Linked DNA regions of Homo sapiens: region 2 is linked to region 1. The links come from fine-mapping of genetic effects on gene expression. Tissue or cell type: whole blood. Region 1 holds a variant in brackets; the other region holds the start of a gene. All regions are shown on one strand. Distances are from middle to middle.

Region 1 (2,852 bases):
GCAACACTCCATCTCAAAAAAAAAAAAAATCATGATTGTAGCCTACACTTGGATCTATGCCTAATAAAACAGTCAAGTATGACTGAAGCAAAAACAGTTTACACACACCTTTTGTGATTTATTGGTTACTCAAAGGGAGTCCAGTCCATAGTGTGAAAAGTGAATTGCTGCAGAGATGAAAAGAGGTGTGTCTAGAGGAAGTCCTTGTAGCAGTGTTTTGTTCCTGCTCGGTCTGAGCCTTTGAATAGATCCTGAAACGTTATATCAAATCCTCTCTCAAAGCACCATTATATGAATGAACAAATAATTTATTGAAAACTAAAACTAAACTAAATTAAGATCCCTGGGAAAAGAAAATCAATACTCCAGAACAATGGATCCAAAGCTCAACTAGGCTAACATAATTCTCAAAGTTCTAGCTTTTAGGCCACTTCAATTTGTCTATCAATGCAGCATTGAACTGCTGACAAATTAGGGAGACATAGTCTCCACCCACAAGCTGCTGTTTATAAACACCAGATGTTTCTGGAACTACCACTTCTGCTAAAAAGGTTTAACTTCCCCTCGTAAATTAATAAGAAATAAGAATTGCAAAAATTGGAATATATTCTCAAAGTATTCCTGAACTTGTGGGATAACTAATAACGAGTATACTTATCTTTAAAGTTTTGGCCGGGCGCGGTGGCTCACGCCTGTAATCCCAGCACTTTGGGAGGCCGAGGCGGGGAGATCACGAAGTCAGGAGATCGAGACCATCCTGGCTAACACGGTGAAACCCTGTCTCTACTAAAAATACAAAAACAAAAAATTAGCCGGGCATGGTGGCCGGCACTGCAGTCCCAGCTACTCGGGAGGCTGAGGCGTGAGAGTGGCGTGAACCCGGGAGGCGGAGCCTGCAGTGAGCGGAGATTGCACCACTGCGCTACAGCCCGGGTGACAGAGCGAGACTCTGTCTCAAAAAAATAAATAAATAAAGTTCTGCAGATAAGCAATTCTATGAATATTGAATGTCTTTTTAACCTATAAGAAGATACCACTCTTGATTGATTTTCTTTTTGGGAGTGCCTAGGTTCAATTTAAAGGTTCTCTGCATGAGATACGCCAATTGATGTAAAGGTTGGTTTTTTAAAAAATTTTAATTTCACTGCTTCCTCATTCCTCTGTGTGTGTATACACACTCGCTAGTGATTTCTTTTCTTAGAATAGAAATTATGAATATCATTTTAAAAAGAGCTGTTTCTGCTAACCTTACAAAATATATTTAATTTGCTGTTTAAATGAAATAGCAAACTTTCTCAAACTTACAGATGCCTCTTGAGCCTTGGATTTCCATTTCTATTTGCTGCGTTTCTGAGTCTCTGTTATCACTATTTGGTGTGAAAACATACACGTCATTTTGGCTTATGATTCAGAAAAGACAGTTTTTTTTATCACAGTTTCTCCAGAGTTCACGTTAATAATGCAACATTTGAACTTCTGCTTCTAGTCAAGATGGAGTAACGGGGACCAAATTTACAGGGACAAAACTGTAAAA[C/T]AGCAGTTTTCAAGACATTGGACATTGGGCAATGGACAATCATCGCTGAGAAACAGGAAACAAACTAAGTGAGCCCTATAATTGCCCCAGGCAATTGAATCCAATTATATATAAAATGGAAAATACATCATGAACAAGTGGGGTTCATCCCAGGAATGCAAGATTGGTTTAGCATTCAAAACTTAATCAATAAAACTCAACAGACTAGGAATAGAAGGGAACCTCCTCAACCTAATAAAAGGCATTTATGAAAAAACCTACCGTTAACCTCATTAATGATGAAAGACTGAATGTTTTCTGCCTAAGATCAGGAACAAGGCAAGGATCCACTCTCACCAATTCTATTCAAAATTATACTGGAAGATGCAGCCAGTGAAATAGGGCAAAAATGAAAGGCATTCATATTGTACGGGAAGAATAAAACTGTCTTTATTCACAAATGACATTCCTGTCTATGCAGAAAGTCCTGTGAAATCTACAAGAAAAATACTAGAATAAATGAGTTTAGCAAAGTTGTAGGATACAAGATAAAGAATGAAAAATAAATTGTGTTTTCTATATACTAGCAATGAAAATGGGAAATTTAAATTATAAATTATAACAATATCATTTACAGTGACAACAAAAATATAAAATACTATCATGTCTGTAATCCCAGCATTTTGGGAGGCCAAGGCAGGCAGATCACTTGAGCCCAGGAGTTCGAGACCAGCTTGGGCAACATGGCGAAACCCTATCTCTACAAAATAATCCAATAAAAATTAGCCTAGTGTGGCGGTGTGCACCTGTAGTCCCAGGTACTTGGGAGGCTGAGATGGGAGGGTCACCTGAGCCCAGGTGGTTAAGGCTGTGGTGGGCCATGATCCCACCACTGCACTCCAGCCTGGGCAATAGAGTGAGACCCTATCTCAAGCATATATATATATGCTTTGTTAGGGATAAACCTGACAAAGTGCATGTGATACCTACACACTGAAAACTAAAAAACATTGCTGAGATAAATGAAAGAAGACCTAAATAAATGCAGAAATATACCATGTTCATTGATTGAAAGACTCAATATTGTGAAGACATCTCTTTGAAACAAACCCAATAAGATGTCAGCATGATTGTCTTTAAAGCTTAACAGGATGATTCTAAAATTAATATAGAAATGCAAAGAACCTAGAATGCCTCAAATATCTTTGAAAAGTAGGAAACAAGTTGGAGGACTTATAATACTTATATTACTTGATTTGTAGGAGGACATATTACTTGACTTCAATAGTGACCCCTTATCCATGGTTTTGCTTTCTGTGGTTTTAGTTACCTGCAGTCA
Region 2 (2,667 bases), 36 kb before region 1:
ATTCTAAAGGACATGTGGATAATTAGGAAAATTTGAATGTGTATCACATCTTAGATAATAGTATTGTGTTGATGTTATGTTTCCGTGGTGTTGTAATGTGTTATAGAAGACTGCCTTTATTTTTAGGAGATACATGCTCAAGAATTTAGGGGTGACATGTGTCCTAAAGTCAGCAACATACTTTCAAACCATTCAGGGAAAAAACTGTGCATATGTGCATGCGTGTGTGTGAATATATATATACACATATAGAGAGAGAGAAAAGGACAGGCAGAGACAGAGAAAGACAAAGCGAGAGAGAAAGTAAATGTGGCAAAAAGATACCACTGATTAATACACATGATGAAAATATGGGTGTTCGTTGTACTATTCTTTCAATTTTTATATAGATTTGAAACATTTCTAAATAAAAATTGGGAGGGGGAAAAAACCATATTTAGTTAATGAAGGCATATTTACATTGTATAATGTTTATTAAGAGCCTAGAGGGACAATATCTTATATATCTAAAATAATCACTACATATGAGATGAGAAATGTCTCAGTGACTTGATATAAATACTTCAAACATCATTTTGCTCTGAGATAATAGAATTAGTGTACTACCTTTGAATATCTCCAAAATTCCACTTATGATATGGATGTTTGACACAGACTTCAAATACTCTTCAATCCTCCAGAAGCTTCTCAAGCTCAGAAACAATCTTCTTCTCACACTGACCTATGCAAGAAATGTTATAAAATATCAATATAAATATTCTGTCCAAACCAGGTCTATATTTAAGCACAGATTCATATGCGCAAGACAAAGAATGTTTGAGCGAGTCTAAAGATAATTCAAACAAAACTCCACTCGTACATGCGCTATCTTTAATACCAAAAGGGAAGCTTTCCCCAAATCACCCAGATGAAAGTCGAAAAGCATCCTCACTATAGATCGCATTCATTTTGAATACATCCTGCCACACAGAAAAACACTATCACAAGCTTGCTGAACTGAATAATTGAGAGTCAAATCCAATTGGAAAGGACTGTGATTGTTTTCGTCTCTAAAACTGCATCACCGTAACTGAATTCAAGAGCTGTGTTGTCCCTGCAAAACCCTGCTTAGGTTTTTAGGCCTTCTTTTAAAAATGCAGAAGCTAAACCAGTGTGGCAATTAGTGAAAGAGGACTGCAAAAATAACACAATAAATATTTGCTCAGATCAGTCAAAAATTGTAGGTAAAAATATAAGTGTTTTAGAAATGCTTAGAATGTGGACACGAGGAGGTAAGGAAAGGAAGTATTGGGCTTAATTTCTCTTTATTTTTCAACTCCACTGAATGCTTGTTTAAACTCCCACTTGTCTCTGATATGGTAAGCTAGAAAAGCATTTTAGATGTCATAAGAATGGATCAGCGCTCTCGTGATAAAGGGCTAAGAAAGCGTGAGAAGACAGATGACAAAAAATAATAGCGGAGTTCTAGGGTCCTTTGCTTTCTTTTTCTTACCTTCACTAACCAATCTGCTCATCTGATCCGGCAGAAACACAGCAACTGACCAAACAGAGAGATGAACAAGCCAGCCAATGCTCTTTCCAGAAATTTTCACAAGCCTTTCACTGATGAGACCAGTAGACTGAGCTGCTCAGTGCAAAGCCATTCTTTTTATAATTGGTCCCATGGAAAAAGAGTTGTTTTTGTTCAAGTCCGATTTGTGCTAAAGAGGCAGTGGGAAGTCCCGGGAGGTGGGGAGGCAGTAACTGACAAAGCCACATCAAGCCACAGAATGGTGTTTCTTCCCCTTTTTCGAAAAATGAAACCTATCTACGAAACTGTCTCTTATTAAAATAGTTTATGGTTACACATTTTGTAAGAACCCTAGCAACAGAATTAAATTTCCTTTCTAGAAAAGTACATTATCTGGGATCCTTCACCCAAAAGAAAGCCAAAGTCACATATGACTTTAGGAAATTCTGTTTCGTTACTAATCTATAATTTTTAAGAAGTATTATTTCTCAATGGTACTTATAATTTTTAAAAATGTAAATGAAAAAAATTTTCTCGGCCGGGCGCAGTGGCTCACGCCTGTAATCCCAGCACTTTGGGAGGCCGAGGCAGGTGGATCAGGAGGTCAGGAAATCGAGACCATCCTGGCAAACACGGCGAAACCTCGTCTCTCCTAAAAATACAAAAAATTAGCCGGGCGCGGTGGCGGGCGCCTGTGGTCCCAGCTACTCGGGAGGCTGAGGCAGGAGAATGGCGTGAACCCGGGAAGTGGAGCTTGCAGTGAGCCGAGATCGCGCCACTGCACTCCAGCCTGGGCGACAGGGCGAGACTCCGTCTCAAAAGAAAAAAAAAAGAAAAAAGTTTTCCCTCTCCAAATACCGAAGGTCAAAACAATAATACATGGTGTGGGCAAAGTTGTGAAGAAACAAGCACTCTCAAACACTACTGATGAGATTGTAAACATATTTAGAGGGCAATTTCCCAGTATCTCTCAAATACAAATATTCATACCCTTTGACCCAACAATTGTATTTTTTATAAATTTGTCCAAGCTATATGTTTACACTTGTACACAAAGACTTATGTGAAAAGATATTTGTTGCAGCATTGCTTGAGAAAATAAATGACTAGAAAAAATTATATCCATAAATAAGATATTGGCCAAGTAAATGAGAACG

What was found. PIP is the estimated chance that this variant, and not a neighbour inherited with it, causes the effect.
Region 2: it holds the start of TASL, and the variant in region 1 is fine-mapped to the expression of TASL in whole blood (TOPMed, PIP above 0.99).

What each region holds. Positions count from the first base shown.
Region 1 is chrX:30,612,438-30,615,289 of GRCh38, forward strand. No RefSeq gene overlaps it. Among named protein-coding and RNA genes, the nearest start is that of TASL, 36 kb to the left of the region's middle. The variant C/T (reference allele first, on the strand shown) is at 1,535.
Region 2 is chrX:30,576,146-30,578,812 of GRCh38, forward strand. It overlaps TASL (TLR adaptor interacting with endolysosomal SLC15A4), which reads right to left and starts at 1,621. Exons shown (of 3, transcript NM_025159.3): 1 at 1,493-1,621; 2 at 607-721. RefSeq lists an enhancer at 1,643-1,852.